Linked DNA regions of Homo sapiens: region 1 is linked to region 2. Evidence: fine-mapped expression QTL. A gene starts in region 2. The other region holds a variant in brackets. All regions are shown on one strand. Distances are between the middles of the regions. Region 1 has its middle 40 kb from the start of EIF4H. Region 2 holds the start of LIMK1 (LIM domain kinase 1).

Evidence for each region. PIP is the estimated chance that this variant, and not a neighbour inherited with it, causes the effect.
Region 1: its variant is fine-mapped to the expression of LIMK1 in whole blood (INTERVAL, PIP above 0.99).

Annotation. Positions count from the first base shown.
Region 1 is chr7:74,127,814-74,140,104 of GRCh38, reverse strand. No RefSeq gene overlaps it. Among named protein-coding and RNA genes, the nearest start is that of EIF4H, 40 kb to the left of the region's middle. RefSeq lists enhancers at 751-1,280, 6,255-7,042. The variant G/T (reference allele first, on the strand shown) is at 5,650.
Region 2 is chr7:74,076,862-74,089,152 of GRCh38, reverse strand. LIMK1 (LIM domain kinase 1) reads right to left here and starts at 5,349. Exons shown (of 16, transcript NM_002314.4): 1 at 5,108-5,349; 2 at 3,309-3,405. The coding sequence starts at 5,162. RefSeq lists enhancers at 2,827-3,424, 3,425-4,024, 4,536-4,805, 5,292-5,970, 5,866-5,975 and 1 more and silencers at 4,996-5,045, 5,156-5,205, 5,326-5,595.

The sequences.
Region 1 (12,291 bases), 51 kb before region 2:
GCCACCTTGGTTTTGGTGGGTTTTGGCCGGCTTCTTTGCTGCAACCTGTTTTATCAGCAAGGTTTTTTGTCACCTATGTCTTGTGCCACCCTCCTGTGTCATCCTGTGACTGGGAATGCCTCACCTCCTGGGAAAGTAGCTCAGTGGTGATGCAGGGTTTTTCTAGGCACCTTCGCTGGACTCATGGAAGGGATGCCCCATCTACTCAGCCCCCTGTGCTCAACCCCTTGCAGGAGGGAGCACACAAGTGACTAAGTGTGGGATCTGGCCAGCTGGCTTCTCCAGGCACCAACACAGGAGCAAGCTGTATGCAGGGCCCATGGCCAGAGCAGGCATGTCACCTTGAGGGGAAAGCAGCAGCACCTAGGTGAGGGTGCCCGTGTCCCCGAAGCTGCAGAGGGGGTGTTATTACAGTGCTCCTTTAGTTCTGCTGTCCACAGATGGTGACATGTCAGCAGATCAGCTGGCCCCTTGCCTCATCACATGGGGACAGCTGCCCTTCACAGGCGAGGGCAAAGGCCCAGTGTGACAGCCTTTCTGGGTATCCTCACTCACTGGGTCCCAAGCTCTTGTCCAGCATCCAGGAAGAATGAAGTTACACGGACGATTGAAGGATGATGAAGGTGGAGAATTTTATTGAGCAATGAAAGCGACTCTCAGTGGAGAGGGGAGCTGGAGAGGGGATGGGAAGTGCAGGCTGCCTTCCCCGAAGTCAGGTCGTCTTTTCCCCTGCTGACTGAGTCTGGAGCCTTTATAGGCACAGGGTGGGGAGTGTGTGCTGATTGGCTTGTGAGTATGCAAAAAGGAGTAGTCCCAGCTATTCAGGAGGCTGAGGCTTGCTTGAGGGATCCCTTAAGTCCAGGAGTTGGAGGAATGTCTTTTGTTATTTATAATGAGTCCTTTTGATCACACTGGAGTTTATGCTAATGAGGTGAGTTAAAGCAAAGACACTACTCAAAGGTGGTCATGAAAGAGTAGAAAACCGCCGGGCACGGTGGCTCATGCCTGTAATGCCAGCACTTTGGGAGGCCAAGGCGGGCAGATCACAAGGTCAGGAGATTGAGGCCATCCTGGCTAACACGGTGAAACCTCATCTCTACTAAAAAATACAAAAAATTAGCCGGGCGTGGTAGCAGGCGCCTGTAGTCCCAGCTACTGGGGAGGCTGAGGCAGGAGAATGACATGAACCCGGGGGGTGGAGATTGCAGTGAGCCGAGATTGCACCACTGCACTCCAGCCTGGGTGACAGAGCGAGACTCTGTCAAAAAAAAAAAGAAAGAGTAGAAAACCAATTAGGAAAGGGTGGGTATATGTAAAATAGGCGAAGGGTGGGGATCAATCAGAGGAAAGCGCGACAAACAGGAAGGTAAGCTCTCAATCCGGTCTAAGGTTTAAACTTGTACCTTCAGTTTCAGGCTTTAAACCGTCTTCGGGTTGGAGGTGGGGTTTCACCGCGGACCCGCCCCTATTGGCCTAGGCAATTGGCTGCCTCCTGTCAATATCAGCAGGTCTCAGCCTCATTTTACCCACCCCCTATTCAAGATGGAATCACTGTGGTTCAAACTCCTCTGACAACAGTAGCTTGCTCCAGATCACACAGCTAATACAAATTGACTCACAAACTCTGGTCTACCCATCATTCAAAGAGGCAGGAAGGTATAGGCCAAACACAGGAAAAGCAGCAGTAACGATAAACTGTGTCTAAAAGACCGTCTTTTCCCCCACAGCACAGGATGAAGTTGAAGTTACTTTCTCTGCCTAAGATCCAGACATCCCCCCTCAACAAGGAAAACAATTGTTTTTTTTTCTTCTCCTTTCTATAAAATCAAGAATGGAACCACACCTGAACAGACTCTTCCGCAAGATAATGTCTCCCTCAGGCTCATTGAAATTCCAAAGAGAATTATGTACAAGTTAATCTCTGTTCCTAAATCCATTCATTCTCCCCAGCAATGTTTATTTTTATTTTTATTTTTATTTTTATTGAGATGGAGTCTCACTCTGTCACCCAGGCTGGAGTGCAGTGATGCCATCTCAGCTCACTGCAACTTCCTCCTCCTGGGTTCAAGTGATTCTCCTGCCTCAGCCTCCTGAGTAGCTGGGATTTCAGCTATGTGCCACCATGACTGGCTAATTTTTGTGTTTTGAGTAGAGACAGGGTTTCGCCATGTTGGCCAGGCTGGTCTCGAACTCCTGACCTCAAGTGATCTGCCCACCTTGGCCTCCCAAAGTGCTAGGATTACAGGCATGAGCCACTCTGCCTAGCCCCCAGTAATCTTTTATGTCCCCTCAATAGAATTCCTCTTTCTTCCCCCTGCCATAACCTGTTTTACCAGGATCCAAACCCCTATTCTTTCTGTATCTGCAAGATAGTATATCTATATCTATAGATATCGATATCTATAGATATATATACACATGTCTATATATATAGATATGTATACATATAGATATAGATATATAGATATCTATAGATATAGATATGTATACATATCTATATATATGTATATAGTGCCAGGCACAGTGGCTCATGGCGGTAATCCCAGCGCCACTTTGGGAGGCCAAGAGGGGAAGATCACTTGAGTGCAGGAGTTCAAGACCAGCCTGGCAACATGGCGAAAACCCAGTCTCTACTTAAAAAAAAAAAGAAGATGGTATATAAGCGTCTGAACGCCTTTGGGGTGGTGGGTAATCACGCTGTGGTGTGGTTCTCCCCAGATACGTGTGAATGCAATTTGTATCCCCCTTTTTCTAATTAATCTGCCTTTTGTGAGCTGATTTATCAGCAAACCTTCAGAAGGTGAAGCAGAAGTTTTTTCCTTGGTTCCTACAATCTCACTTCTATGCACATAACAAAATTTCACATGCACCCTATAAATATGGACAGCTACGATGTATTAATAATATTAGGCTGGGCATGTTTGCTCACACCTGTAATCCCAGCACTTTGGGAAGCTGAGGCAGGAGGATGGATCACTTGAGCCCAGGAGTTCAAGACGAGCCTGGGCAACATAATGAGACCCTCATCTCTACAAAACATAAAAACATTAGCTGGGCATGGTGGTGCACTCCTGTAGTCCTAGCTACTCAGGAGGCTGAGGTGGGAGGATTTATTGAGGCCAAGAGTTTGAGACCAGCTTGGGTAATATTATGGGACTCCTCTCTATAGAAAATAAAATTAAAGGCTGGGTGTGGTGGCTCACACCTGTAATTCCAGCACTTTGGGAGGCCAAGGCGGGTGGATCACCTGAGGTCAGGAGCTGAAGACCAGCCTGACCAACATGGTGAAACCCTGTCTCTACTAAAATACAAAATTAACCAGGCGTGGTGGCAGGTGCCTGTAGTCCCAGCTACTCGGGAGGCTGAGGCAGGAGAATCGCTTGAACCCAGGAGGCAGAGATTGCAGTGAGCTGAGACCACGCCATTGCACTCCAGCCTGGGCGACAAGAGTGAAACTTCGTCTCAAAAAAAAAAAAAAAGGAAAATTAAAAACTTAGCTGCATGTGGTGGTGTGCACCTGTAGTTCGAGCTACTACAGAGGGTGAGGCTGAGGTGAGAGAATCACTTGAGCCCAGGAATTCAAGACCAGCCTGGGCAAGATAGCAAGATTCCATCCCTATTTTAAAAATTAAGTAAAAAAGGCCAGGTGTGGTGGCTCATGCCTGTAATCCCAGCACTTTGGGAGGCCCAGGTGGGCGGATCATGGAATTGGGAGATTGAGACCATCCTGGCTAACACAGTGAAACTCCGTCTCTACTGAAAATACAAAAAATTAGCCGGGCGTGGTGGCACGCGCCTGCAGTCCCAGCCACTCGGGAGGGTGAGGCAGGAGAATGGCATGAACCTTGGAGGCGGAGGTTGCAGTGAGCCGAGATTGTATCACTGTACTCCAGCCTGGGGGACGGAGCGAGACTCCGTCTCAAAAAAAAAAAAAAAAAAAAATTTAAGTAAAAAAATTTGAATATAATAAACTAGTTGCAGCGGGTGCAGTGGCTCATGCCTGTAATCAGTCCCAGCACTTTGAGAGGCTGAGGCGAGTGATCACAAGGTCAAGAGATCGAGACCATCCTGGCCAACACGGTGAAACCCTGTCTCTACTAAAAATACAAAAATTAGCTGGACGTGGTGGCCTGCGCCTGTAGTCCCAGCTACTCAGGAGGCTGAGGCAGGAGAATCGCTTGATCCCAGGAAGTGGAGGTTGCAGTGAGCTGGGATTGCGCCACTGTACTCCAGCCTGGCGACAGAGTGAGTCTCAAAAAATAAAAAATAAAAAAAAAATTACTTAACATAAGTAAAGTATTTCCCTGAGCTCTGTGAGCCATTCTAGAAAATTATCTAACTCCAGGAGAGGGTTTTTGGAAACCCCAGCTTTTAAAAAAATTATTTCTTGGGGCCGGGTGCAGTGGCTCACGCCTGTAATCCCAGCACTTTGGGAGGCCAAGGTGGGCGGATCACGAGGTCAGGAGATGGAAACTATCATGGTTAACACGGTGAAACCTTGTCTCCACTAAAAATACAAAAAATTAGCCGGGCGTGGTGGCGGGCGCCTGTAGTCCCAGCTGCTCGGGAGGCTGAGGCAGGAGAATAGTGTGAACCCGGGAGGCGGAGCTTGCAGTGAGCCAAGATCGCGCCATTGCACTCCAGCCTGGGCGACAGAGCGGGACTCCATCTCAAAATATAATAAAATAAATAAATAAAAATTATTTCTTTATATTTATTTATTTATTTTTGTTTCAACAGGTTTTTGGGGAACAGGTGAACAGGTGGTATTTGGTTACATAAATAAGTTCTTTTTTTTATTTTGTATTTTTTTTTTAGACAGAGTCTCGCTCTGTCACCCAGGCTCGAGTGCAGTGGCTTGATCTCAGCTCATTGCAAGCTCTGCCTCCCAGGTTCAAGTGACTGTCCTGCCTCAGCCTCCTGAGTAGCTGGGATTACAGGCATGTGTTACCATTCCTGGCTAATTTTTGTATTTTTTTAGTAGAGGCAGGTTTTCGTCATGTTGGCCAAGTTTTTTTTGTTTTTGTTTTTTTTTTAATAGAAATATGGTCTCACTATGTTGCGCTGGTTGGTCTTGAATTTCTGGGCTCAAGCAGTCCTGCCACTTAGGCCTCCCAAAGTGCTGGGATTACACATGTGAACCATCACACCCGACCTGAAAGCAAGCTTATCAGGAAAATAAAGGAATAGCCGGGCGCAGTGGCTCACGTCTGTAATTCCAGCACTTTGGGAGGCTGAGGCAGGTGGATCACCTGAGGTCAGGAGTTCGAGACCAGCCTGGCCAACCTGGTGAAACTCCATCTCTATTAAAAATACAAAAATTAGCTGGGTGTGGTGGTGCATACCTGTAATTCCAGCTACTCGGAAGGCTGAGGCAGGAGAATTGCTTGAACCTGGGAGGCAGAGGTTGCAGTGAGTCAAGATTGTGCCACTGCACTCCAGCCTGGGCAACAGAGCGGGACTCTGTCTCGAAAAAGAAAAAAAAAAAAAGAATAGGAAAGGAATAAAGAGTGACTCCTCCATAGGCAGAGCAGTGGCATGGGCTGCTTGACTGAGTATACTTACAGTTATTTCTTCATTCTATGCTAAACGAAGTATGGGTTATTCATGAGTTTTCCAGGAAAGGGCAGGGATTTCCCAGAACTGAGG[G/T]TTCTTCCTTCTTTTAGACCATATAGGGTAACTTCCGGGTGTTGCCGTGGCACTTGTAAACTGTCATAGTCCTGGTGGGAGTGTCTTTTAGCATGGTAATGTATTATAATTAGTGTATAATGAGCAGTGAGGATGACCAGAGGTCAGTTTCATCACTGTTGGTGGGTTTTGGGGCTGGCTTCTTTACTGCGTCCTGTTTTTGTTTTCTTTTTTTTTTTTTTTTTTGGGATGGAGTCTCGCTCTGTTGCCCCGTCTGGAGTGCAGTGGTGCGATCCTGGCTCACTGCAACTTCTGCCTCCCGAGTTCAAGCAATTCTCTTGCCTCAGCCTCCTGAGTAGCTGGGAGTACAGGTGCCTGCCACCATGTCTGGGTAATTTTTGTATTTTTGGTAGAGACAGGGTTTCACCATGTTGGCCAGGCTGGTCTTGATCTCCTGGCATCAAGTGATTTGCCCGCCTCAGCCTCCCAGAATGCTGGGATTACAGGAGTGAGCCACTGTGCCCTGTCAGCATCCTGTTTTATCAGCAGGGTCTTTGTGACCCGTATCTTGTGATACCAGTCCTGCCAACCTTCTGTCTCATCCTGTGAATAAGAATGTCTCACCTACTGGGAATGCAGCCCAGCAGGTCTCAGCCTCATCTTACCCAGCCCCTATTCAAGATAGAGTCACTCTTTTTCAAATGCTTCCTTCCAAAAACAAAGGATAACAGGCTGGGCGCAGTGGCTCATGTCTGTAATCCCAGCAGTTTGGGAGGCTGAGGTGGGCAGATCACTTGAGGTCAAGAGTTTGAAACCAGCCTGGCCAACATGGTGAAACCCCGTCTCTACTAAAAATACAAAAATTAGCTAGGGGTGGTGGCACATGCCGATAATCCCAGCTACTCGGGAGGCTGAAGCAGGAGAATCACTTGAGCCCAGGAGGCGGAGGTTGCAGCGAGCCGAGATGCCATCACTCTACTGCAGCCTGTCCAGCAGAGTGAGACTCTGTCTCAAACACACACACACACACACACACACACACACACACACACACACACACACACCACAAAGGATAACAGGAGACAGGAAAATTAGAGGACCATCTGAATCTTAATGTTTTCAAGGTGATTGCAAAAAAAAAGGGGAGAGACAAAGAAGATATGAAGTATTCTGTAAAATGTAAAAAAAAAAAGTCTAAGACCTCAGTAGAGAAAATTATGAAATATTTGTTCACAAAACTTATGCATTTTTTTTTTTGAGACGTAGTTTCGCTCTTGTTGCCCAGGCTGGAATGCAATGGCACAATCTCATCTCTCTGCAACTTTCGCCTCCCGGGTTCATTGATTCTCCTGCCTCAGCCTCCTGAGTAGCTGGGATTACAGGCATGCACTACCACACCCGTCTAATTTTGTATTTTTAGTAGAGATGGGGTTTCACCATGTTGGCCAGGCTGGTCTCGAACTTCTGACCTCAGGTGATCCACCAGCCTCGGCCTCTCAAAGTGCTGGGATTACAGGTGTGAGCCACTGTGCCTGGCCTTCCCGTCTCTCTTTTTTAGTATATCTGCTGCCAAAGGGAGCACCCGTCTCTCTTTTTAAAAAAAAAGAAGGAAGGGGCCGGGCGCGGTGGCTCACGCTCACGCCTGTAATCCCAGCACTTTGGGAGGCCGAGGTGGGCGGATCATGAGGTCAGGAGATCGAGACCATCCTGGCTAACACGGTGAAACCCTGTCTCTACTGAAAATACAAAAAATTAGCTGGGCGTGGTGGCGGGCGCCTGTAGTCCCAGCTACTCAGGAGGCTGAGGCCGGATAATCGATTTAACTTGGGAGGTGGAGCTTGTAGTGAGCTGAGGTCCCGCCACTGCACTCCAGCCTGGGCGACAGAGCAAGACTCCGTCTCAAAAAAAAAAAAAAAAAAAAAAAAAAGGAAGGGAGGGCGGGAAGGAGGAAGGGAGGAAGGGAGGGAGGAAGGGAGGGAGGAAGGCAGGCAGAAGATCTGAAGAAACATGAGTGGCCACTAAACACGTAAAGATGCTCAACTATAGAGGAAATCAGGGAAACTCAAATTAGTACCACAGTAAGATACTGTATTGTACCTGTTAGTCTGTAAAAAATTAAAAAGATCTGGACAACGAAGAATCTGATATACTGCAAGTGAGACCATAAATCACTAGAACTGCTTTGAGAAACAATTTGGCACTTTTCTTCCTTTCTTTTCTTTTCTTTTTTTTTTTTTTTTTTTTTTTTTTCATGAGACAGGGTCTGGCTCTGTCACCCAGGCTGCAGCACAGTGGTGCAATCATAGCTTACTAGCTTACTGTAGCCTTGAACTCCTGGGCTCAAGCAATCCTCCTGCCTCAGCTTCCCAAAGTACTGGGATTACAGATGTAAGTCACCTTACCTGGCCTTTTTCTTTTTTCTTTGTTTTTGAGCTGGAGTCTTGCTCTGTTGCCCAGGCTGGAGTGCAGTGGAGCAATCTTGGTTCACTGCAACCTCCGACTCCTGGGTTCAAGTGATCCTCCTGCCTCAGGCTCCTGAGTAGCTGGAATTACAGTGATCCGTCCCAAAGTGCTGGGATTACGGGCATGAACCTCCGCACCTGGCCTTTTTTTTTTTTTAAATTTATAGAGGAAAAGGCTGGTCGAGGTGGTGTGGTGGCTCACTCCTGTAATCCCAGTACTTTGGGAGGCCGAAGCAGGCAGATCACTTGAGGCCAGGAGTTTGAGACCAGCCTGGCCAACATGGTGAAACCCCGTCTCTACAAAAAATACAAAAATTAGCCAGGTGGTGGCTGGTGCCTGTAATCCTAGCTACTCGGGAGGCTGAGGCAGGAGAATCGCTTGAACTCAGGAGGTGGAGGTTGCAGTGAGCTAAGATTGTACCACTGCACTCCAGACTGGGTGACAGAGTGAAACTCTGTCTCAAAAAAATAAAAAATAGTATAATTTAAATCCCCAAATAGGATAATTGACTTTTTTTTTTCTGTGCCACCACGCCTGTCTAATTTTTGTATTTTTAGTACAGACGGGGGTTTCACTATGTTGGCCAGGCTGGTCTCGAACTTCTGACCTCAGGTGATCCACCTGCCTTGGCCTCCTAAAGTGCTGGGATTACAGGCGTGAAGCACCAAGCCCAGCTGAGTTTGGAGCTTTAAACAAAAGAGATCCACCAGCATAAGCCCTAGTCGAATGATCTATTGATCATTAAGTGTTGCCCTGTTTATGGAAGATTTACCAATACTTGAAAAACGACTTTAATTTGGTATTGGAGCTTCTTTTTTTTTTTTTTTTCCTGAGACAGAGTCTCGCTCTGTCGCCTGGGCTGGAGTGCAGTAGCGCGATCTTGGCTTACTGCAACCTCCGCCTCCCAGGTTCAAGTGACTCTCCTGCCTCAGCCTCCCGAGTACCTGGGATTACAGGCGCACGCCTCTATGCTGAGCTAATTTTTATTGTATTTTTAGTAGAGACGGGGTTTCACCATGTTGGCCAGGCTGGTCTCGAACTCCTGACCTTGTGATTCGCCTGCCTCGGCCTCCCAAAGTGCTGGGATTACAGGCGTGAGCCACCGTGCCCGGCCTGGAACTTCTTAAAGTAGAGTTTTGAAGTTTTTTGTGAGCAGTTTTGGACCAATCCCAGAAGGAAACGTAGCATATTTTATATGCACATGATTTCTCTACTGTGTTAACTCTGCAGCTTTTAAAACATTTTTATTTTTAGAGACAGGGTCTTGCCATGTTGTCCATGCTGGTCTCAAACTCCTGAGCTCAGCAATTTGCTGGTCTCAGCCCCACAAAGTGCTGGGATTACAGTCATGAGCCAGTGTGCCCGGCCAAGAAATTATATAATTTTTTAAAAGCCATATTAATTTGTGTAAAACAACTGACTCTGTTATAAACTGTCATGAAAAGCCTTCATAATTGATTTAGTATTTAGGTGGTGCTTTTGCAGTGGAAATTATGATTAAAGTCATATATGACTCCAACAAAAACATAGTTTTATTGTATTACAAAGTACTGTATTGATTTGCCAAAATTTTATAATTTGGAAAAGGTATTACCTTCTTTAGATCCGTATTTCTAAAACACTGTATGATTTACAATGCTATATTCTAGGCTGATTATATTAACTGAAAAATATTACCTAAATATTGCTGCACTCTAAATTTAAACAGAGGAACCATTGTTCACCTCTTTTATAGCGTTTTTTATTTGCTAACCTCATAAAATTTCTATGTGTCAAAATCACACTTCTATAATTGCCAAAGCATGAGCTATTAGATTATTTGAATGTAATTGGGTTTTGAAGTAATTGTGACCACAAAACATTCTTATAAAAGGAGCTTTGTACATTATGTAACTTATAAATCAACTACAGCATGAATTCCAGGTGCTTAATGCTTTTAATAATATGATGTCACAGCCAGGGGAAAAACTCTATGTACACTAATCACTAAAAGCACTGCAGTGGTTTTTATTTATAGGAAATCATTATTTCCGATTACTGAAGGTCAGGTGCTATCTTAAAAACAATGTAGTAAATGAATTTTGTTTCACATTTCAGGGCAAGTAATTGTCAGCCATTAAATGGTACTTTTGAAGCCGGGCGCAGTGGCTCACACGCCTGTAATTGCGGCACTTGGGAGGCTGAGGTGGGTTGATCACCTGAGGTCAGGGGTTCGAGACCAGCCTGGCCAACATGATGAAACCGCGTCTCTACTAAAAATATAAAAATTAGCTGGGCGTGGTGTGCACATCTCAATTCCAGCTACTCAGGAGGCTGAGGCATGAGAATCGCTTGAACCCAGGAGGTGGTTGTTGCAGTGAGCCAAGATTGTGCCACTGCACTCCAGCCTGGGAAACAGAGCAAGATCCTTTCTCAAAAAAAAAATTACCCAGTTTCAGGTATTTCTTCTTCTTCCTCCTTCCTCCTTCCTTCCCCTTCTCCTTCTCCCCCTCCTCCTCCTCCTTCTTCCTTTTTTTTTTTTTTTTTTTTGAGACAGAGCCTTGCTCTTTCACCCAGGCTGGAGTGCAGTGGTGCAATCTAGGCTCACTGCCACCTCTGCCTACCAGGTTCAAGTGATCCTCTTGCCTCGGCCTCCCAAGTAGCTGGAACTACAGGCACACACCACCACACCTGGCTAATTTTTGTATTTTTAGCAGAGGCGGGGTTTCGCCATGTTGGCCAGGCTGGTCTTGAACTCCTGACCTCAATTGATCCACCTGCCTCGAGCTCCCAAAGTGCTGGGATTACAGGTGTGAGCCACCATGCCTGGCCTGAGAGACTTAATATTATTACGATGTCAATATTCCAATACTCCCCAGTTCACATATAGACATAAACCAATCCCTGTCAAAATCCTCAGCTGGACCGGGAACAGTGACTCATGCCTGTAATTCCAGTGCTGTGGGAGGCTGAGGCAGGAGGATCACTTGAGGCCAGGAGTTCGAGACCAGCCTGGCCAACATGGTGAAACCCCATCTCTACTAAAAATATGAAAAATTAGCCGGGCATGGTGGCAGGCGCCCATGCCCACCAGCTACTCGGGAGGCTGAGGGAGGAGAATCGCTTGAACCCAGGAGGCAGAGGTTGCAGTGAGGCGAGGTTGCGCCACTGCACTCCAGCCTGGGCGACAGAGTGAGAGTCCATCTCAAAAAAAAAAAGAGATCAGCCTGGTTGGGCAGGAGTTTGAGACCATGTCGCTACAAAAATTAAAAAATTAGCAGGGCATGGTGGCATGTGTCTGTATTCCCTGGTACTCAGGAGGCTGAGATGAGAGGATCACTTGAGCCTAGGGGTTCCAGGCTGCAGTGAGCTAGGAGTTGTGCCACTGCACTCCAGTCTGGGTGACAGAATGACATCTTGTGTCTAAACAAACAAATCCCCAGCTGGCTTGTTTTCAGAAATTGACAAGCTCATCCTAAAAATTCATGTGGAGGCTGGGCATGGTGGCTCACATCTATAATCCCAGCACTTTGGGAGCCTGAGGTGGGTGGATCACTTGAGGCAAGGAGTTTGAGACCAGCCTGGACAACATGGTGAAACCCCATCTCTACTAAAAACACAAAAATTAGCATGGTGGTGCATGCCTCTAGTCCCAGCTACTTGGGAGGCTAAGTTGGGAGAATTGCTTGAACCTGGGAGGCAGAGGTTGCAGTGAGCTGAGATCTTGGCACTTAAAAAAAAAAAATTCTTGTGGAAATTCAAGGGACTTCAAATAGCCAAAACAGTCTAGAAAAAGAAAAACAAAGTTGGAAGGCTCACATTTCTCAACTTCAAAAGTTACAACAAAGCTACAATAATGAAGACAATTAGTACCGATACAGGCATATAGCTAAGCCCCCAAATTGTGGATTAGCCTGGGAGGGTTTTTGGTTTCACTCAAAGAATTCAAGGGTAAGCTGGTGGTGTTACACAGCAATCTTTTATTGAACCAGAGCTGCTCCTTGCAAAGCAGGAGTTAATTCATAAGCAATGCACCCAGAGCTGCGCTTGTGGTAATTTTTTTCTTTTTTTTTGAGACGGAGTCTCGCTCTGTCGCTCAGGCTGGAGTGCAATAGCGCAGTCTCGGCTCACTGTAACCTCTGCCTCCCAGGTTCAAGTGATTCTCCCGCCTCAGCCTCCCAAGTAGGTGGGATTACAGGAGTGGGCCACCACGCCCAGCTT
Region 2 (12,291 bases):
GCACTTGATTGCATGGAATCTCTGTTTCTCCCATGCAAACTGGGCACATACAGTCCCTCATAGAGTTATGATGAAGATTTAACAAATTAGCATGAAGAGTGCTCAATGCATGGTAGCCAATATGACAAATACTCACCAAAAACTGTCCCTTCTGCCTGAAATTCTCTCCATCCTCAGTCACTGTCCCAGGTCAGGTCCTATGAGCTCAGACCCTTGAGTTACTGGGACAGTCCCTTCCCTGCCTAGATACCACCACCGGCCCACTGGGATGGCATTCTTCAACAGCATGTCACCCCAGCCCCTCCCTGGCTTTCTGCCGACTCCCTTCTATTTTTTTTTTTTTTTTTTTTTGAGATGGAGTCTCGCTCTGTCTCCCAGGCTGGAGTGCAGTGACGTGATCTCAGCTCACTGCAGCCTCCGCCTCCCAGGTTCAAGTGATTCTCCTTCCTTAGCCTCCCGAGTAGCTTGGATTACAGTCATGTGCCACCATGCCTGGCTAATTTTTGAATATTTAGTAGAGACGGGGGTTTCACCACGTTGGCCAGGCTGGTCTCAAGCTCCTGGGGTCAAGTGATCTGCCTGCCTCGGCCTCCCAAAGTGCTGGGATTACGGGGATGAGCCACCACCCCCATCCTGACTTCTGAAACTCCTTATCTTGGCATTCAAGGCCCTTCACGAATCGGTCTCAACTTTGTTTCTTGTTGGATCCCTCAGCTTATTCTGTTCCTTCCAAGGGAACTGTTCCTGTTCCCTCAGCAGTCCGCACCATCCCACCGCTGTGCAGATGGTTTCCTCTGCCTGTTGAGAGCCCTCTTGCCCCCCGAAGGCCTCTTTCTGAGCACCTGATGCAGAATCCCAGGGCATGCTGTCTGTCTCCTTTCAGCCACACTGAGTGTGTTCATTTCACTCACTGGCTGTGTGACTTTCATCAAGAGAATTAACCTCTCTGTGTCCCAATTTTCTCTCTGGCAAAACAAAGACAGCACTAATATCTAACTATGCAAAGTACTTAGAACAGGGGTTGTCCCTTACTGAATGTTAGAAAACGTTAGACGTTATTCCTAAAAAAGAAAAAACAGGCTGGGCATGGTGGCTTATGCTTGTAATCCCAGCACTTTGGGAGGCTGAGTCAGAAGGATCGCTTGAACCAGTTGGAGCTGGAGGCTACAGTGGGCTATGATCTCACCACTGCACGCCAGCCTGGGTGACACAGCAAGACCCTGTGTAAAAAAAAAGAAAAGAAGAAACAAAAAAACAAACCGAGGCCAGGTGCAGTGGCTCATGCCTGTAATTCCAGCATTTTGGGAGGCTGAGGCGGGCAGATCACTTGAGGTCAGGAGTTCGAGACCAGCCTGGCCAACATGGCAAAACCCTATCTCTACTGAAAATACAAAACTTAGCCGGGCGTGGTGGTGCACACCTGTAATCCCAGCTACTTGGGAGGCTGAAGCAGGAGAATCGCTTGAACCTGGGAGGCGGAGGTTGCAGTGAGGAGGGATCGCGCCACTGCTCCCCAGCCTGGGCGACACAACAAGACTGTCTCAAAAAAACCAAAAACCAAAAAATAAACCAAGGCAGAAGCCTAAAATAAAGTCCTAGTGGTGGATGTCTTGACCCCTGCTGGGCATCCCAGAAGCTTCACCTTCTACCCTTTTATGGAGTTTTCTCCCCTGAACCTTGCTGTTTGGTGACTATGCCTGTAATTCTCTCCCACACCATTTGTTTTTCTTTCTTTCTTTTTTAAAAATTGAGACTGGGTCTCGCTCTATTGCCCAGGCTAGAGTGCAGTGGTGCGATCATAGCTCACTGCAGCCTCCACCTCCCAGGCTCAAGTAACCCTGCCACCTCAGCCTCTTGAGTAGCTGGGACTACAGGCATGCGCCACCACGCCCGGCTAATTTTTTGTATTTTCAGTGGAGACAGGGTGTTGCCATATTGCCCAGGCTTGTCTCGAACTCCTGAACTCAAGTGATCTGCCCACCTCAGCCCCAAAAAGTGATGGGATTATAGGTGTGAGCCACCACGCCCCACCTCCACTCTACTTTTCTACCCAGGAAATCTCACATCCTTTGAGACCCCTGCTCTGGCCCTGCTCTGGCTCAAGGCAGGTAGACCCCTGCTCCTGGCTTCTCAGGATGGTCCTACTGGGTGACCTTCAGGTCCTCATGTACTCTTTATCCTCCGCCACAACCCTGACCCTACTTTCTTCCTACCTGTGGGTGTGTGTCTGGACACTGGGGCTGGTGTGACTGGGTTATGCATGTTCGCAAGCAGCCTGGAAGACACTGAGGGTGGCCTGGTTTCCCTTAAGGCCTGGTTTGTCTTCCCTCCCTGCAAGAGCATGAACACCCAGAAGGCAGGAGGGACATTCCTTCCAACTCTTCCCCCTGTCTGGGTGCCAGCAGGGGGCTGAATTGCAGGCACTGGCTCAATTGGAGGTCTCTCCCATCCTCTCTAAGATTTAGATCTCAGAGATCTAGGATGACAACAGAGGCCAAGGCGTTAGCTCACGCCTGTAAGCCTAGCACTTTCGGAGGCCAAGGCAGGAGGATTGCTTGAGGTCACAAGTTCAAGACCAGCCTGGGTCTCAATAGTGAGACCCTGTCTTTACACAAAATTTAAAAAATTAGCTGAGCATTGTGGTGTATACCTATAATCCCAGCTACTCGGGAGGCTGAAGTAGGAGGATCACTTTAGCCCGGGAGATGGAGGTTGCAATGAGCCGAGATGGCACCACTGCACTCCAGCCTGGGCAACAGAGCAAGACCATTTCGAAAAAAGAAAAATACATAAAAGAAAATAAAATGAGGCCAGGAGCGGTGGTTTATGTCTGTCATCCCAGCACTTTGGGAGGCTGAGGTGGGAAGATCACTTGAGGTCAGAAGTTTCAGACCAGCCTGGCTAACATGGCAAAACCCGTCTCTACTAAAAATACAAAAATTAGCTGGGCGTGGTGGTGCACGCCTGTAATCCCAGCTACTCCAGAGGCTGACACAGGAGAACTGCGTGAGCCCAGGAGGAAGAGGTTGCAATGAGCCAAGATCGCACCACTGTACTCCAGCCTGGGTGACAGAGCGAGACTCCGTCTCAAAAAGAAAAAAAAATAGATAAATAAAATGACAACAGGAAGGCCTGTAGGGATTTTCTAGTCAAAACACCTCATGTCATAAATGGTAAATTAAGGCCACGAAGTCACAATAGGGGACGGCACCAGGAGGCATATCCCGGCCTCCCCCATTCCTTGACCAGCCTGTCCTCTCTGGCAGGCCTTGTTTAGGGCAACACAGGCCCTGGGCACCCCACCCTACCTGAAGCAGTCTGCGTGCCAGTCCGCGTTCAGGGCCTGGAGGTACTGGCCATCATAGATCCTCTGGCCGCAGCTTGCACACACGGGCAACTCGCTTCCTGCAGGGTGGGAAGGGAGTTGGGAAGCATTCTCAGGAAGTGTGATCTGGTGCAGGCCCAGCTTGCCCTGCCCACCCCACATATACCTACACCTGCACCAATCCTCGCACACTGCACATGTGCAGCGCCCAGGCAGGGCAGTCGCTGTGCCAAATAGGAGAAGAAAGGGCGCTGGCCTGAGTCTTGCTGAGATACTGACTAGGTTGCCAAGCTTCTCTGGCCCTGTTTCCCTATGTATCAGCTTAGGAGGAGGATCAGGTCCATCCTCCCGCTATAGCATTGGATCTGGCAAGGTAAATGAGGAGAAAGGAAGCAGTGGCTTTAGGGATAAGGCAGTGGGTGACATTCCTATCACAGCCTCCTTTCTTCCCTCTCCTGCCCAGGAAGAAGTACTAAGAGGGCCCTTCAAAGGCAGGGACTGGACAGGGCTGGATTAGTGCATCCTGGGCTGAAGCCAGCTGGGAGGTCAAGGGCAGGAAGCCTGGAGGTGCCGGCCCTAACAGATCCTTGGCAATGAATGCCCTGGCTTGGCAAGGGGAGGGGGCTGCAGACCTGGGTACTCCCAGACACCTGTCCCAGGGAGGCCTGGCACCTCCTCTAGCCAGCCACAGGCATGCTTAGTCATCCTTGGGGCCTGGCACCCTTGGAGCTGGTGGGCCCTGGAAAATGCCCCAGACCTGCCCCTCTCCACTGTACAGAAGGGGAGACTGAGCCCCAGAGATGGCATGGCTTGCCCAGTCACATAGCTAGGTCCCAAGGCCACAACAGCCTGACCCTCTGTGAAGACGCAGGTACCTTAGGTAGGCAGGGGCTACAGGAAGGTGGGCCCCTACCCCAATCAGGTTTTCATGGGCCTGGGAAGAGTTGGTGGCAGGGGGAGGTGTGGAGTCAGGCCCTGCCTTGGGGCCAGGTGGATCTAAGTGACAGGTCAGCGAAGGAGATCCAAGGAGGGGCCCCCAGACCCTGTCCTAGGCTGGGGGAGTCCTTGAACCCTAACTGCAGTGCAGTACTGCGCCTTGGGCCCCAGTGAGGGAGAAGGGGCTAAAGAGGAGGTTAGGATGAGTCATGCTCCCAGCCAAGACTGAGGGCAGGCACCGGGTTTGGGGCACGGACAGGGAGAGTGGATGAGGCTCCCGCAGTACACGGCCTCCGGCTTCCTGGACGCCTATCTCCGCTCTACCCATCTGGCCCCCAATCACCGACACCGGGGGGGCAACTACCCAGTTTCCAAATGTACAGAAGGGGAAACTGAGGACCAGGAAGTCAGCGCCTGGCTCAAGGTCACAGAGCCGGGCAGGCGCCCGGCGGCCACTGGGACCCGGGGCTGCGGCTTCCCCAGCCGCTCTTTCTTCCGAGACTGGATAAAGGGTGGCCCCAGGGCGAGGCCCGGGTGGTGGACAGAGCACGCGGATGGAGGCCGACGCGGGGTGGGCAGTGTCTGGGAGTCCTTCGCGGGGGGACGTGGGAGGAGGAAAAAGGGTCCAGGGGCCCCCAGACCCGCAGGAGGGCAGCTCGCCGGGGGCCGGGGAGGGGGATCCCGGGCGGGAGGGGGACAGGGAGGGGCCTGCGGGCTTCGTAAGGACGAGCTCATCCCGGAGGAGGCAGGGGCGCGGCCTCCTGGCAGACCCGGCCCCCTCCCGTGCCCCACGCTGCCCCGGGCACCCCCTCCAGGCCCTCGCCCCACACCCCGCGGCCCGCGCACCTTCCTCTCCCATACGTTCTTCCCTCCAGGTGCAACAAAGTAGCGTCAACCTCATGCACTCGACGGGGGGCGGGGCCCGGCGGGGCTGGGGCTGGGGGCGGCCGGGCCCGCGAGCTCGCCCACCGCCGCCGGCCCGGGGAGGCGGGGGCGGAGGGCGCGGGCCGGGCCGGGCCGGGCCGGGGGCGCCTCTCGGACACCGGCGGGGAAACCGGCTCGGCGCCGCGGCGGCTTGGGGAGCGAGCGGAGGGGCGGACCGAGGCGGGGCCTGTGAGCTGCGGCACGGGGGCGGGGCGCGGGCGGCCGGCGGCGGGAACGGCCCTGCGCGGCCCCGCCCCCACCAGAAAACCCCGCCCCCACGCCCAAGGCCACGCCTCTAGAGGCCACGCCCCGCTGCGGCCCGGCCTGGGGGCGCCGCGAGCTGGCGCGGCGCGCCCCGCCCCTCCCCGCCCCTTCCGCCCTTCATTCATTCTTCTTTCTCCCAGCGACAGGCCTCGGCTGGGAGCTGCGAGGCCCAGCTGTCTCGGAGGGCCGCTAGCTCTGCTGGGGCAGGCCAGGAGGATGTAGGAGCCTAGAGAAGGGGCCTCCGCTTCCCTGCGCGAGGCCCCCACAGACCCAAACCAGCTGCAGCCGGGAACTCGGATCAGAGCTGGAGAGGCCCTGTGGACCCCCAGGACACTGGTGGTCGCCTTGGGGAGGGGAGGGAGGCGGGCCGGGTTTTGTCCCTCTCTCTGAGGCCTGCATTGAGGCCAGGCTGGGCCCGGGGAAGGTGACGGTCCGCGTCTCAGGCCTCGCGAATGAGCAGCACCAGAGAAAGGAGCGAGCCCCTGCCAGGCGGTGACAGGTGTACTCTTCTCAGTGCCGATTACCTGGAGCTGGGGCTGCCCTGCCCAGGGTCCTGGAGGGAGCACGGGTTTGGGCTGAGTCAAGCGTCCAAAGGAATTGGGTGGTCCAGTCCAGCACTGATGGTGGAACGCCCTGCCTAGATGTGGACAATTCTAGAATGCTGGACATGGGCAGGAAGCAACCCTGTCCCCCCTAGGTCTACCTTCCACGTCATCCCTCTGCCCAGGAAGCAGTGACCGGAGTGGAGCCACGTGCCCACGTGAACCCAGTGAACAAGAGGCAGCGCTAGCCCAGCTCCAACTCTAGTCATCATGTTTGTGGGGAGAGGTCTAGGCACGTCTGCAAAGTGGGGGGCACTCACCCCTGGGTGCAAAACAATTACGTGGGGTGGGAAGAAAATACTAGATTTTTTTTTTCTTTTTTTAGATTCGGTCTCGCTCTGTTGCCTAGGCTGGAGTGCAGTGGCGGGATCTCGGCTCACCGCAGTCTCCACCTCCCAGGTTCAAGCAATTCTCCCACCTTAGCCTCCCGAGTAGCTGATATTACAGGCGTGCACCACCATGACCGACTAATTTTTGTATTTTTAGTAGAGATGAGGTTTCACCATGTTGACCAGGCTGGTCCTGAACTCCTGACCTCAGGTGATCCACCCTCCTCGGCTTCCCAAAGTGCTGGGATTACAGGTGTGAGCCACCACGCCTGGCCAGAATTTTTAATTTCTCATGAGAAAGAAGGCTGGGCACAGTGGCTCACACCTATAATCCCAGCACTTTGGGAGGCCAAGGTGGGAGCATCACGTGGGGCCAGGAATTGGAGATCAGCTTAAGCAATGAAGTGAAACCCTGTCTCTTCTAACTTTTTTTTTTTTTGAAATGGAGTTTCACTCTTGTTGCCCAGGCTGGAGTGCAATGGTGCGATCTCAGCTCACAGCAACCTCCACCTCCCGGGTTCAAGCCATTCTCCTGCCTCAGCCTCTGGAATAGCTGGGATTATAGGCATGCACCACCATACCTGGCTAATTTTGTATTTTTAATAGAGACGGGGTTTCTCCATGTTGGTCAGGCTGGTCTCGAATTCTGGACCTCAGGTGATCCACCCACCTTGGCCTCCCAAAGTGCTGGGATTACAGGCGTGAGCCACCGCGCCCAGACTTTTTTTTTTTTTTTTAATTAGCCAGGCATGGTGGCTCATGCCTGTAGTTAGTTACTTGGGAGGCTGAGGTGGGAGGATACTTGACCTCAGGAGGTTGAGGCTGCAGTGAGCTATGATTGCACCATTGCACTCTAGCCTGGGTGACAGAGACCCTGTCAAAAAAGATAGGGAGGGAAAAAAAGGGGAAGGAAAGAGAGGGGAATGAGAGCCTTGTAACTTGGCTGTAGGGCATATACCAGGCAGGACCCTGGCTGGAAACAGAAAGTGCCACTTAGTGGGGCTAACTGGGGAGAGTTTGATAAAGGGGATGTTTGCAATGCACTGGGGAGGGGGGATTAAAGGAGATCAGTAAGGACTGGCACAGTTGGAGGGGTGGCAGCAGTTACCAGCCCAGGGTAAGGGGGCATAGAGGGGGTCCCTGGAGGAGAGGCCTGCCTGAGAGGAGCTGTGCAAGAGGGGTCCCCAGTTCTGGGGGACTCATGGGGAAGAGGGCCCAGAAGGGCTATTCTGATCTGACTCCCCTGCTCTTCTTATTCTTCCATTGCCTCCCGTTAACCAATCCCGTCTGGATGCAGCGGGCAGGGCCATGTTGATGCTGTGCCCACAGTGCAGGGCAGAGAAGTGCATAGTGGCCTGGAGGGGCTGTGAGCCTGAGCCAGCTTGGTTGAGTGATGTTATCCAGTTTTGACTAAATTAACCCTCACAGAATGGACTCATAGTTGAAAACAATTCCTGCAAAGAAAGCACAGATTGGGCCTGGCGTGGTGGCTCACACCTGTAATCCCAGCACTTTGAGAGGCTGAGGCGGGTGGATCGTGAGGTCAGGAGATCGAGACCATCCTGGCCAACATGGTGAAACCCCGTCTCTACTAAAAATACAAAAATTAGCTGGGCATGGTGGTACGTGCCTGCAATCCCAGCTACTTGGGAGGCTGAGGCAGGAAAATCGCTTGAACCAGGGAGTTGGAGGTTGCGGTGAGCCGAGATTGCGCCACTGCACCCCAGCCTGGTGACAGAGCAAGACTCCATCTCAAAAAAAAAAAAAGAAAGCACAGATTGAAGATGATGCAGACTGGGTGCAGTGGCTTATACCTGTAATCCCAGCACTTTGGGAGGCTGAACTGGGAGGATCGCTTGAGGTCAGGAGTTCAAGACCAGCCTGGGCAACATAGTGAGACCCCCTCACATCTCTTCGGAAAAAAAAAAATTATCTGGGAGTGGTGGTGTGCACCTGTAGTCACAGCTACTCAGGAGGCTGAGACGGGAGGATCGCTTGAGTCCAGGATTTGGAGGCTCTAGTGAGCTCTGATCATGCCATTGTACAGCCTGTCTCAAACAAATAAACAAAAAAAAAAAAAAAGAAGATGCTAACACACCCAGATGAGCGAAAAGATGGAGCTGGCACTTCCACACCTTGTAGGAGCTCCTTGTCAGCCACAGTTCCAGGTGAAACATCAGATCTGACATATTCAGTTACATTGCTCATGCAAGATTTTTTTTGCTGAAAGCAAAAAGGATTTTTGCTTTTTATTTATATTTATTTATTTATTTATTTATTTTGAGATGGAGGTTTGCTCTTCTTTCCCAGGCTGGAGTGCAGTGGCACGATCCCAGCTCATTGCAATCTCCACCTCCTGGGTTCAAGCAATTCTCCTGCCTCAGCCTCCCAAGTAGCTGGGATTACAGGTGTGCACCACCATGCCTGGCTAATTTTTTGTATTTTTAGTAGAGATGGGGTTTCACCAGGTTGGCCAGACTGGTCTCGAACTCCTGACCTCAGGCGATTCGCCCACCTAGGCCTCCCAAAGTGCTGGGATTATAGATGTGAGCCATCTCGCCTGGCTGCAAAAAGGATTTTTGGACTTTTTTTTTTTTTTTTTTTTAAGAGAGACAGGGTCTCACTCTGTCACACAGGGTGGAATGCAGTGGCACGATCGTAGCTCACTGCAGCCTCAAACTCCTGAGCTCAAGTGATCCTCCCACCTCAGACTTCTAGGTAGGTGGACCCACAGGCACACACGCCACGTCTGGCTAATTTTTATCTTTTGTAGAGATGGGGGGGGGTCTTACCATGTTGCCCAGGCTAGTCTCGAACTCCTGTGCTCAATTGATCCTTTCCACTTTGTGTTCCCAAAGTGCTGGGATTATAGGCATGAGCCACTGAGTCCGGCCTGATAAAAGTTTTTTGTTTTGTTTTTGTTTTTTTGAGATGGAGTCTCGCCCTGTTGCCCAAGCTGGACTGCAGTGGCGCTAACTCGGCTCACTGCAACCTCTGCCTCCTGGATTCAAGTGATTCTCCTGCCTCAGCCTCCCGAGTAGCTGGGATTACAGGTGCCTGCCACCACGCCTGGCTAATTTTTGTATTTTTAGTAGAGATAGGGTTTCACCATGTTGGCCAGGCTGGTCTTGAACTCCTGACCTCAAGTGATCATCCCACCTCGGCCTCTTAAAGTGCTGGGATTACAGTGTGAGTCACCACTCCCGGCCAATAAAAGTTTTTTCTATGAGGAGTTGAGCGCCCCATGGGAATGGCTTACTCACTCTAGAGGTTAGAATTGCCCAGTTGCAAATTTGTGCCTGGCTGGACACAAGCCAGTGACAAGCAGGAGGCTCCTTGGGGATGCTGCTGTAACGTGAGCCCAAGGCTGTTGTTGAAGGCAGGGCCAGAGCCTGAGCTGTCCTAGCATGCAAAGCAGGCTGGCGTCATGGGATCCCTGCTGTCAGACCCTGCCTGCTCACATCTCGCCCACTCTGCGTGAGCTCACTCAGATGCATGGCTTGGTGACTCCTCTGACCTCTCCTCGAACTGCAGACACAAGAACCCGAATGTCTATTTGGGATCTCCACTTGGATGGCAAATGGGACCTCATACTTAATGTGTCCAGGTCAGAGCTCATAATTTGTGCCCGGATAGTTCCTCCCCAGGTGTTTCTTATCTCAGTAAATGACACCACCATCATCCAGTAATTTAGTTTAAACTCACAGACATTTTTTTTTTTTGAGACAAGATCTTCCTCTATCACCCAGGCTGGTGGGCAGTGGCACGATCAAAGCTCACTGCAGCCTTGACCTCCCAGGCTCAAGCGATCCTCCCATCTCAGCCTCCCTAGCTGCTGGAACTACAGGTGTACTATATGGCATGACTGCTCCCATTCCCTCTCTTGACTCCCTGCCTCTGATCCATTGGCAAATCCTATTGGCTCTATATGTAAAATACATCCAGAATTCCAGCACTTCTCCCTCCTTCTTGGCCTAGTTAGGTATTTAGAGCAACAGCCTCCCAAGTCATGTCCCTATGCCCTGTCATCCTGCAGAGCCTCTGAACATGTGTGACATTCCTTTGCTTTCTAACCCTAAGGTCCCTGCTTCTGCGCTTATGGGACCTAGCCTCTGGCTACTACTTTGCCCTTATTTTTATTCTCCTGTCAGTTTTGTTAAAATCATGATGGTCAGTCATGGTAGCTCACACCTGTAATCCCAGCCATTTGAGAGGCCAAGGCAGGAGGATCCCTTGAGGCCAGAAATTTGAAACCAGCCTGGGCAACATAGCGAGACCTCATCTCTAAAAAAAAAAAAAATTAGCCAGGTATGGTGGCACGTGACTGTAGTCCTAGCTACTTGGGAGGCTGAGGCAGGAGGATTGCTTGAGACCAAGTCTTGCTCTGTCGCCCAGGCTGGAGAGCAATGGTGCAATCTCGGCTCACTCCAACTTCTGCCTCCTGGGTTCAAGCAATTCTCCTGCCTCAGCCTCCTGAGTAGCTGGGATTACAGGCGCATGCTATCACACCCGGCTAATTTTTGTATTTTTAGTAGAAACGGGGTTTCACCATATTGGCCAGGTTGGTCTTGAACTCCTGACCTCAGGTGATCCACCCGCCTCGGCCTTCCAAAGTGCTGGGATTACAGGCGTGAGCCACCGCGCCTGGCCCCTTTCTCTAATTAAAAAGAAGAAAAATCGTGGTGCACCTCTCTGCTGTTCTAACTTCCCAAGTACGTGGTTGTTACAGGGCTTTTGACTTGAGGCCAGGTCCATTAACCATCCTAAGTTAGGGTGATAACATTCCTTGTAACTCTCCTCCCGGGCTTTTTATCTTCATAGCACCGATTTACCTGGCATTAGAGTTATTACTTATTCACTGTACTATATCAGTTTCCCCTGGCTGCTATGACAAATTACCAGAAACTTGGTGGCTGAAAACAAGACATTTATTTTCTCACAGTTCTGGAGGCCAGAAGTCTGAAATCAGATTGTTGGAAATCAATCCTGAAATCAATCTGCTGTGTCTTCTTTCAGGCATTTTATAGTTTTGGGTCTTACATTTAGTTATTTAATCTGAGTTATTTTTTGTATATGGTGTAAGATAAGGATCGAACTTTTTTTTTTTTTTTTGAGACAGGGTCTTGCTCTGTTGCCCATGGAGTGCAGTGGCATGATCTCAGCTCACCACAACCTCCGCCTCCCAGGTTCGAGCAATTCTCCTGCCTCAGCCTCCCAAGTAGCTAGGCTTACAGGTGCATGCCACCAGGCCCGGCTAATTTTTGTATTTTTAGTAGAGACGGGGTTTCACCATGTTGGACAGGCTGGTCTCAAACTTGTGATCTCAGGTGATCCACCCGCCTCAGCCTCCCAAAATGCTGGGATTACAGGTGTGATCCACCGTGCCCGGCCCCCAGACTTTATTCTGAGACAGGGTCTCGCTCTGTCACCCAGGCTGGAGGGCAGTGGCATGATCTCAGCTCACTGCAACCTCTGCCTCCCTGGTTCAAGTGATTCTCCTGCCTCAGCCTCCTGAGTAGCTGGGATTACAGGCACCCACCACCATGCCCAGCTAATTTTTGTGTTTTTAGTAGAGATGGGGTTTCACCATATTGGCCAGGCTGGTTTCGAATTCCTGATCTTGTGATTTGCCTGCCTCGGCCTCCCAAAGTGCTGGGATTACAGGCATGAGCCACCGTGCCCGGCCACTTTATTCTTTTGTATGTGGATATCCAGTTTTCCCAATAAAATTTGGCTTTTTTGTTATGTTTTTTGTTTTTTTAAAGAGAGATGGGATCTGTCTATGTTGCTCAGGGCGGTCTCGAACTCCTGGGCTCAAACAATCCTCCCACTTTGGCCTCCCAGAAGTGTGAGGATTACAGGCATGAGCCACTGTGTCTGGCCACTAACATTGCTTGTTGAAGAGACTATT